2 separate regions of the Homo sapiens genome follow, and region 2 is linked to region 1. A link means that fine-mapping ties the variant in region 1 to the expression of a gene that starts in the linked region. Tissue or cell type: whole blood. Region 1 holds a variant in brackets; the other region holds the start of a gene. All regions are shown on one strand. Distances are between the middles of the regions. Region 1 overlaps GSAP (gamma-secretase activating protein). Region 2 holds the start of GSAP (gamma-secretase activating protein).

Region 1 (5,381 bases):
AACAAAGTCAAGCACTTTGATCCTACAGAGAAAAGAAGGCTTTTAGTAACGAAGATTGTAATATCACACATTATTTTTTCCAAAGCAAGGAGTAAGAACAATTTCCGGTAAATCCTACTACAGTGACTATAAACTAATAAAACAATTCTACCACCATCCTAGAGTCCTGTGAGGAGACTGAAACTGTAAATCTGTTCCCAGTTCTACTCTCTAGGATGTGTAGCGGCTCCAGGACCCCAAAAGAGCAATCAGCCCAGCAAAGGACCTGCCTTCCACACCCTCAGGAGCCCTGAAGAAGCTGCATTTTATTATGAAAACCACAGGATACTCAAGAAATGCAAATGTGAAAAGGGAAGTCTTTGAACAGCCCTGGAAACAACAGTAGATACAAGGGAGACAAATTTCAGATTATAAGAATTCTGCATTTACAGAAAAGCATCACATTTAAAACACAAGTGGCTTCTGAATTCAAAGATCACTGTATATTACTTTGCACTCTCACCAGCAACATATAAGAGGGCCTAACGGGTTTCTAATGGATATCATTTTTCCCAATTATCACAATTCTATGATTTGCAAAAGCAGACATGTCTGAACTTTCTGAAAATATAAATATGCTAACTATTGTATTAGCTATTCTACCAGGGGGAAAAAAAGGTGATTTTCTTAAAGTTTGACTTTAAAGTTTGACTTTGACATTTCTACAAATTCAACAGAGACACAGAAAAGATCTCAAGGGAGAAATCAATGTGCACGGAGTGAAGAAGTTGTTTGTACTCACTCCATGCCATTTTTAGCATAGCTCCACAAGCCCTCTAGGCTTTTAAGTCTAAACAAACACAGTGCGATTCTCTGTCACTCCAATTCGGCAGCACAATGGCAAATATTGTTTGTGTAGGAAAATAAAAAGATTTCTGATACATGAACATGTTAAGGCTGACAGTATCTATCATTAGGACACAGGCTGGGTTTCCCTCAGGGACAGTGGTATAGCACTGATAATGACCCACTTACTTCTTCAGTGTCACATCTGAGCAAATGCCATAAAATACAGCAATCAGGAGGAAGTCCATGGACACAGGCTTCCCCGCATGGAGTTACCAAAGATATCTAAATTTAGGTCAAGGTTCCCCTTCCCCCAAGATTACACCGTAGAAAAGAAGGACTGGCCTTATATTTGAGCTTTTATTGAGACTCTAATATGATCCAGTGTCTCTCAGTGACTTCACTGTGAAAAATAATATACAAAATTTGGGGATGGCACAGAAGCGTGGAATTTAATCAGTGTTAGTTTTCAATATTTAAGAAAGCAACCTGAGAGCACTGCTTTATTTTTTGAAAAAAGCAAAGAACGTAAAACAATTTCTGAGCTATGTCCTAACAACTGGAAGGTCTGGATCTATCTATAAACATGCCTTTTAAATATTACTTGAAAAAGACAGTAAGTGAGTTATTATATTGAATCATATAATATACATACTACAGAACAAATGGAAATCCAATGTTTGGTAAATGGGTGCTTGTGGCTTAGGATGAAAATCCTAGTGACAGGATCTTACAACCAAGGGTATGGATGAGTTACTTTGGGAATCTACTTGATGACTCAAAAAATGGCTCCAGGAATAAGAAAGACATTGGTGTCAAAGATATTTGTGAAGAAAAATAGAATAGAAATGCTCTGTTGAGAGGTGAGTATGTGGGGGGGAAAATGAATTTTTCTTATTGTTATCTTAAATGTGTATGACTAAATTAGTATATTAAATAGCACGAACTGACATTTTTTTGACCTAAAAGTATGCGTGTGTGTATGTATGTGTGTGTGTATATATATATATTTTTTTGACCTAAAAGTATGTGTGTGTGTATATATATATATATTTTTTGTTTGTTTGTTTTGTTTTGTTTTTTGTTTCCATCCTGGTTAACATAGTGAAATGCCGTCTCTACAAAAATAAAAAAAAAAACGCGTCATTTAGCATTAGGTATATCTCCCAACGCTATCCCTCCCCCCCTCCCCACCCAACAGTCCCCGATGTGTAATGTTCCCCTTCCTATGTCCATGTGTTCTCATTGTTCGATTCCCACCTATGAGTGAGAACACGCGGTGTTTGGTTTTTTGTCCTTGGGATAGTTTGCTGAGAATGATGGTTTCCAGCTTCATCCATGTCCCTACAAAGGACATGAACTCATCATTTTTTATGGCTGCATAGTATTCCATGGTGTATATGTGCCACATTTTCTTAATCCAGTCTATCATTGTTGGACATTTGGGTTGGTTCCAAGTCTTTGCTATTGTGAATAGTGCCACAATAAATGTATGTGTGCATGTGTCTTTATAGCAGCATGATTTATAATCCTTTGGGTATATACCCAGTAATGGGATGGCTGGGTCAAATGGTATTTCTAGTTCTAGATCCTTGAGGAATCACCACACTGTCTTCCACAATGGTTGAACTAGTTTACAGTCCCACCAACAGTGTGAAAGTGTTCCTATTTCTCCACATCCTCTCCAGCACCTGTTGTTTCCTGACTTTTTAATGATTGCCATTCTAACTGGTGTGAGATAGTATCTCATTGTGGTTTTGATTTGCATGTCTCTGATGGCCAGTGATCATGAGCATTTTTTCATGTGTTTTTTGGCTGAATAAATGTCTTCTTTTGAGAAAGTGTCTGTTCATATCCTTCGCCCACTTTTTGATGGGGTTGTTTGTTTTCTCTTGTAAATTTGTTTGAGTTCATTGTAGATTCTGGATATTAGCCCTTTGTCAGATGAGTAGGTTGCGAAAATTTTCTCCCATTCTGTAGGTTGCCTGTTCACTCTGATGGTGGTTTCTTTTGCTGTGCAGAAGCTCTTTAGTTTAATTAGATCCCATTTGTCAATTTTGGCTTTTGTTGCCATTGCTTTTGGTGTTTTAGACATGAAGTCCTTGCCCATGCCTATGTCCTGAATGGTATTGCCTAGGTTTTCTTCTAGGGTTTTTATGGTTTTAGGTCTTACATTTAAGTCTTTAATCCATCTTGAATTAATTTTTGTATAAGGTGTAAGGAAGGGATCCAGTTTCAGCTTTCTACATATGGCCAGCCAGTTTTCCCAGCACCATTTATTAAATAGGGAATCCTTTACCCATTTCTTCTTTTTGTCAGGTTTGTCAAAGATCAGATAGTTGTAGATATGCAGCATTATATCTGAGGGCTCTGTTCTGTTCCATTGGTATATACCTAAGCTAAA[T/C]GACGAGTTAATGGGTGCAGCACACCATCGTGGCACATGTATACATATGTAACAAACCTGCACGTTGTGCACATGTACCCTAAAACTTGAAGTATAATAATAAAAATAAAAAATAAAAAAATACAAATCAATTACAAAAAAAAAATAGCTGGGCATGGTGGCACACGCCTGTAGTCCCAGCTACCCGGGAGGCTAAGGCAGGAGACTCGCTTGAAACCAGGAGGCGGAAGTTGCAGTGAGCCAAGGTTGCGCCACTGCACTCCAGCCTGGTGACAGAGCGAGACTCCGTCTAAAAAAAAAAAAAAAAAAAAAAAAAAAAAAAAAAAAATTAGCCGGGTGTGGTGGCACTCATCTGTAGCTACTCGGGAGGCTGAGGCAGGACAATCACTTGAACCCAGGAAGCAGAGGTTGCAGTGAGCTGAGATCACACCACTGCACTCCAGCGTGGGCAACAGATGAGGCTCCGTCTCAAAAAAAAAAAAAAAAAAAAAAGAAAAAGAAAAAGAATAACCATATATTTGGCTTTTTTTTTTAAGCAGGAATTTGTACCCAAAGGAGACAGCCAGCTATCAGCAAGATTTTCTTACCTTTAAAATGGGAAGATCTTTGAAGGCAGAAAACACCTTTCTACACTAATTTTTCCCTTCTCAAGTACAACCCAGACATTTGACTAATACTACTAGCATAATAAGAGCCAACCTTTGCAAATAGTAATTTCTCTCAATAACATACCATGTGCTTTCACAGTGAAAAAGGAAGCATCGTGAATTAAGATTCTAGAGACATCAGTTCTAGTTTCAGTTCTGCCATTATCCTGGTATTTACTTCACAGCAAATCACCAAGCTTTCCTAGGCCTCAATGCCTCATTATTAAACATAATAAAACATGCAGGGCAAGGTGCTCACGCCTGTAATCCCAACACTTTTGGAGGCCAAGGCAGGAAGATCATTTGAGGCCAGGAATTTGAGACCAGCCTGGGCAACATAGTGAAACCCCATCTCTACAAAAAAATGAAAAAAATATTAAGAACAAGCTGGACATGGTGGTGTGTGCCTATAGTCCCAGTTACTCAGAAGGTTGAGGTGGGAAGATCACCTGGGCCAGGGAGGTCGAGGCTATAGTGAGCCATAAGAATGTCAGTGCACCCCAGCTTGGGCAACAGAGCAAGACCCTGTCTCAAAAATAATCAGAATAAAATGAAAGACCAAAGAACCAGATTACTTCTACAATCCCTTTCAGCCATAAAATCCCATTATTCTATGAGGTGCTAAATTAAGAATTTTGATGGCCGGGAGTGGTGGCTCACACCTGTAATCCCAGCACTTTGGGAAGCCAAGGCGGGTGGATCACCTGAGGTCAGGAGTTCGAGACCAGCCTGGCCAACACGGGGAAACCCCGTCTCTACTAAAAATACAAAAATTAGCCGGAAGTGGTGGTGGATGCCTGCGGTGCTGGCTACTCAGGAGGCTGAGGCAGGAGAATCTGAACCTGGGAGGCGGAGGTTACAGTGAGCCGAGACCACACCATTGCACTCCAGCCTGGGTGACAGAGCAAGACTCCATCTCAGGAAAAAAAAAAAAAGAATTTTGAGAATCAAGATATCAGTGGAGACTGGACACAGTGGCTCATGCCTGTAATCCTAACATATTGGGTGGCTGAGGTGGGCGGATTCCCTGAGCTCAGGAGTTCAAGACCAGCCTGGGCAACATGACTAATCCCCTCTCTGCTAATAACACAAAAAATTAGCCAGGCGTGGTGGCGCACACTTGTAATCCCAGCTACTCGGGAAACTGAGGCAGGAGTATCGCTTGAACCCGGAAGTTGGAGGTTGCAGTGAGCTGAGATCACACCACTGCACTCCAGCCTGGGTGACAGAGCAAGGCACTGTCTCAAAAAAGAAAAGATTATCAGTGGAGACTGGGAGACCATCACTGAAGGGGAAGACAAGACCAGGCAATATCTGGATACCACAAGGAGAGACAGCAGGATCAGGCAGAGGGATAGACATGACATGAGGAGAACGGAGGTGAGCAAAAGACCATGGTGTGATCCAGGCACATGCTGTGAAATGGTGACAAGGATGGGAGAGTTCAATATGGCCTGGTTCTGAAGGAGCTCTGGTTATTCAAGCTCTTGAACCGAATCACAGCT
Region 2 (5,381 bases), 27 kb after region 1:
GGCTGACTCAGCCCAGCTCTCTGTTTTGCCAGGAATATATCATACATATCTCATGAGAATTACTTAGCACCTCTAAGAAAACTTCAATTGTATTTGTTGATGTAAAAACATTAAGGCTTCAAATTCAGAAAGCAAGTATGCATAGAGGAGGCATTACAATGGTATAGTAATTCATAATTTACATTTGAAAAGCCAGAACTTTGAAAGGATAATGATTTCCACAAATGTGTGTTGTAACTGCTGTGCTAGAAATGAGACAGAATCCCAGATTTCCCTGCCACTGCTATAAATTACAGAACAGGAATTAATTTGTGTGGGGGTATTTTTGAGCTACCACCCACTGGTGATTATCAGAGGTGATAATTCTCTTAGTATAACAGGGCTAATATCTTACCAAGATATTTGCTCTGAAAGAGCAAAATACTACCAGTATCAGAAAAGCTAGTATTTCCAGAAAGTACCTTCTGAGGACCTAGAGCTATCTGTTGTTTAGTGGAAGGTCAATACACAAGTTTATATTTCTTCAGAGATGAGCGAAAGATACAAGGAAGCCAGGTCCCAGTGGGTCACACACAGCTTTTCAAGCACGACACACATTACGGAAACATAAGACTGTGGCATTTCACACTCATCTAACTTCTCATTTGCAGACACCTGCCATTTAGCAAAATAAAGTGGGAGTCCAGAAAAAGGAGTACTTGGTAGTAGAAGACAGAGCTGCCTGTTGTATTTCAAAAAGTTAAGCCTTCAAAAACTTTTCAGACATGTGGGCGACTTTTTTTTTTTTTTTTTTTTTTTTTTTTTTTGAGACGGAGACTTACTCTGTTGCCCAGGCTGGAGTGCAGTGGCGAGATCTCGGCTCACTGCAACCTCTGCCTCCCAGGTTCAAGCGATTCTCCTGCCTCAGCCTCCCGAGTAGCTGGGATTACAGGAGCGTGTCACCACGCCCAGCTAATTTTTGTATAAAATTCTTCCTTGACCACCCTCTCCACCTCGAAAAAAAGTAAAGCCTTACTAAGCATGACACTAATGCAAACTCAATGCATACGCTACACAAACATATAACTCCTTATTTGGAGCTAATAATATTCCAAGCCAAGGAAACCTACAAATAATTTCGCTATAGTCATAGGAGAGTGTGAAGATACAAGATAGCAACTTGATATATAACTCACATCAAGAAAACTTTCACCAGCGTTTAAGGGAAAGGAGTTGTAGATGTGGGTCATTTAATACCCACTTCCAAATTCACTGAAGTGGACAGCGCCCTACACACAAGGTGAGACCTACAGGCATCATTGCTTTGAAGCTGCATTTAAGCTCTGAAGCTCCAATATTTATAGAAGACTTTTAAAACTTTGTAAGAAATCACAAAGTTCCCCTTCTTTAAAACAGATCAGTGCTGGGAAGGCTCAAAAGTCACTTTCACTCCCTTACCAAATCATCAAAAAGCCCGGAGTGGCAGGGCCGGGAGCCGAGCATCTCGCGCGCAGCCCCAGCCTGCACAGGTGCGGAGCTCGGGGGCGGCTGGGGGCTCTCGCCCCGCCGCGCGCAGCCTGGAGGCGGCCCCTGCCCTCTTGCGCCTCACCGCCGAGGCCCATGTCCCCTGAGCCACGGACACGGTTCAACAGACACATAAACACGTCTCGCAAATGTGGGGACAAACTGTTCCACCGTTAGGTATAGGGTGGTTTGCTTGGTGGTCACGGATTCTTTCTCAAAACGTGAAGCTTCCAGGAGCACTCCTGTCTTGGCAAAGCCCCTGCGCTGCCGATGAACCCCCCGGGAGGTGGGATGCGGCCGCTGAGCTGAGCACGACCCTCTGCCCTCGCCGTGAGGTGATGCTGAGGGAACCGCCAGCGGCCCGGCCCCTCTGCCAAGGGCGAATTTCCGCGGGCCGGCAGCGAGCCAGGCGCCTCAGGCCCCACGGCGACCTGGCCCGGGCTCTGCCCCCAGACCTTCCGCCGTGGCTGGGTGTGGGTGGCAAAGCCAAAACAGCCCTCTGAGGAGGGGAGCGACGCCCTCGCACCAGCCTTCTCAGGGCGGCGACGCCCCGGGTTGCTCCCCACCGGGTCGGAGTCCGGGGGGTATGAGGGACTCCCACTCCCCGCCCCCACCCCTCTCCGCAGCGCGCCTCCCGCACCTGCGCCGCCGCTTCCGGCCCCGCTGGCCTCCGACACTGCCCGCTGCGCCCGCAACCACGGGAGCACGTCCTTCCCGAGGTCGAAGTCGGCGACCAGGCGAAGAGCCATCGCCCGGACACGACCACCGGGCGGCTCTGGGGCCCCGCACCGCGGGCATTCCCGGCCCCGCGTGGCCGCCTCGCCCTCGCGTCCCCGCTCCCGCCCCCTCTTTCCTCTCCCCCGCCCCCTGCTGCTTTCGGTTCTGCAGCGCCCTGGCCTGAGAAGCTCCGGCACCAGCTCCTCCCGGCCGGCGGCCCGCACCTGAGCCGGAGCCGGAGCCGGGCACGGCGGGTAGCGGTGGGGCGGGGTGGACCAGGCGCCAGGACCAGGCCCGCCGGGGCGGGAGGCCTCCGCGCGCACCTTCGGGGCTGAGGATAGAGGGCGCAAAGACGTGGGCGCTTCAGGGCCTTGGCGAGGCCGCTAGCCCAGTGGCTTCCAAACCTGGAGGGTCGGCCTATTTTCTTTATTCTACAAGTGCCTCCACTGTGCAGCAAAGTGTGGAAACCACTTGGCTTGAGAGAGCTGGGTCCTCTGGAGCAGTTCAGGGTCACCACAGAAGTAGGCCGTCTCTTGGGCCTATTCGCCCCAGCTTCGAGGTGGTGGTGCTTTATTAGTGTTATTAAGGTAATGAGTAGCAACTGGGAGCGTATGACGAAGGTGATCCCATTGTAAGAGAAACGCTAAAAGGGGTTAATGCGCTTGATACAAACAGCGTCCTTTTTGCCTTTTAACTCTAGTACATCTCATTTGATGCCTTGAGACATGAAAACTGAATCTTAAGTCTCCACGCAAACCCTCTGCCTCCCACCAGGGTCTAACAGAGCACTCTGGAAGGTGCTCGACAATTACTGAAGAATGAGTGAATACAGTAATAAAGAATGCTTTTTCACATGCTTCCGAAATTAAGGTCTGAAAACTACTTGTATTGACGTCATCTGGGGCACTATTTTACAATGCAGACTCCTGATCTCTACACCTGGACAAGACCAGAAACGTGCATTTTACCCAGAGCCTCGGGTGATTCTTAGGCTTACTAAGTTTGAAAACTACTCCAACCAAATGTAAAAGAAAGTCTTGAATTTTTTTCCCTCCTAGAGACATGTTTCTCCAACTGAGGTAATGGATGATTTCAGGTAGAACTCCATTACTCACCACCATATACAGAGGAAAGTCCTCCCACCCGGGAAGTGCATGCAAATTTAAGATAAATGCCTAATGAAGCTGCTAATATTATCAGTGAATAAAAGGAAGGCCACTGGAGCCCCCAAGGAGCTAATGCAACTATTTCATATCAAATAAGCTTGTTGCCTTTGTCATACAGAAACACTGTTGGCCAATTTTTTAAAGTCAGTACATTTCCATTGTTTTTATTTTTGCAGTTAACTTCTATTTTTGCCAGGCAGGACTGATTTTATAGTCAAGCAGTGATGATATAAAAAATTCTCTTCAAATTAAGTGAAAAAGCCAATGTAAAGAAGGTGAGAAACAATAAGATAATGATAGAAAGATGTGGCCAAAATCATGAGGGTGCTATATGAAGGCATGTGTATCAGTTAGGATTAGATTCTCCAGAAGTTAATAAGAACTCAGATTAACAGTAAATTAAACACACAAGTTTTATTCTGTCACCTAGCTGGACGTAGGCAGAATAAAGCTCTTAGGGCAGGTTCCTGAATTTATCAGGGACCCAGGCTCCTTCCAGTTCTTTGCTCCACCTGATCCTGAGTGTACCCTTGTCCTCATGATCAAAGAGGGCTGCAGAAGCTTCAGCCTTCACGTCTGCATTCCAGAAATCAGAATGGAAGAAGAGGAATAAAAAGAGGATGCTACCTCTCTTTTAAGGATACTTCCCGGAAGTTCTACACAACATTTCTACGTATGTTTCACTCACCAGAATTTAGTCACATGGCCAAATGTAGCTTTCAAGGGAGGCAAGGAAATATACCTGGCCATTGCTGTGCCCAGATAAAAATCAGGACGGTATTACTGAAGAAGGTGGGGAAAGTAGATATTCAGAAGCAATTAGAGATCTCTGTCAGAGTATGATACCCGATTCCGGCCACTGAGTTGTAAGGAAACCTCTGCTATGACAGATTTCTCTATTCTTAAAACAAGAGACATGGGAAAAGATGGTCCCTTTCAGTCTTTAACTATTTCGGGATCTAGATATGATTGCTGGAATTTCAGCCATCTAGCACACTGAAAATGGAGTCATTGGAGTCAGGAGAGTCCAGAGAACTGCAGAGAAGAGAAACCTTGGTAAATTATTTTTGGAGCCATCCTCTGCCCTTTCTGATATTAGAGATGTTGAATTTCCTATTGTTTAAATGATATTCAGTCAGACTTTTATTTTACTTGCAACCAAGGGTTTCAATTTTAAGGAGTGATCATTTCAAAATTTAGGGCACAGGCCAAAGAGCACTATAATAATAGGTTTGTGTTTGAACACTTATTAGAACACATTCTATATTTTGTATTGTTAACATAAAATGAAGTTATGTTGAGGGAGTAGGCTTACAGGAAACAGCTCAGATAAGCAAAAAGAGTTTGTTGCAAAGCCCTGAAAACCTAAGGGCCTCTGGATTAGATCACCTGAAAGTCATTCTACGTATCATGCAAGCCAGTTTGAGTTGGGTTTTCTGTTACTTGTGCCAAAAGCATCTTAAATCAGGGATTTTCAAACTTTAATGAGCATTCAAATCACCTAAGGATCTTGATAAAAGGTAGATTCTGATTCAGCAGGGTGAGGTGGTGCTGAAGAGTCTACATTTTAACGAGTTTCCAGGTCATGCCAAAGCTGCTGGTCCACAGATGACATTTTGAATAGCAACATTCTGCTACTTAATGTGAGGAGCTTTCCACCTCTGTATTGCTGCCTTACTGTCCACCATAGAGAGGGCCAGGTGAGGAAATGCATGAAATGGCTAGCTTTGAAGATATACCAGAGCTAAAGGTCGGTATGTGAGGAGAAATCTAAAATGGAGGTAAATATTGATTCCAGAAGTTTGAACCACGCCATGAGTCACAAGTTTTAGTAGCAAGCCACAGAGAATCAGCTAAAGGGAGGAGATAAAGGTGCTTACACTATAGTAGAGATGCAAGCACAAGGCAAGAAAAGAGGTGAAGCAATGCAGAGAATCAGAATCTTCAAAATTATGATTCTTGTGCACACCGAAGTTTGGGGAGCACTGGTCTAGC

What was found.
Region 2: it holds the start of GSAP, and the variant in region 1 is fine-mapped to the expression of GSAP in whole blood (INTERVAL, PIP above 0.99).

Annotation. Positions count from the first base shown.
Region 1 is chr7:77,387,427-77,392,807 of GRCh38, forward strand. It overlaps GSAP (gamma-secretase activating protein), which reads right to left. Exons shown (of 31, transcript NM_017439.4): 6 at 1-22. Among named protein-coding and RNA genes, the nearest start is that of GSAP, 26 kb to the right of the region's middle. RefSeq lists an enhancer at 5,117-5,381. The variant T/C (reference allele first, on the strand shown) is at 3,230.
Region 2 is chr7:77,414,070-77,419,450 of GRCh38, forward strand. GSAP (gamma-secretase activating protein) reads right to left here and starts at 2,280. Exons shown (of 31, transcript NM_017439.4): 1 at 2,144-2,280. The coding sequence starts at 2,252. It overlaps LOC101927243 (a long non-coding RNA gene), which reads left to right and starts at 1,129. Exons shown (of 5, transcript NR_110073.1): 1 at 1,129-1,279. RefSeq lists silencers at 1,446-1,735, 1,796-2,005, 2,226-2,575.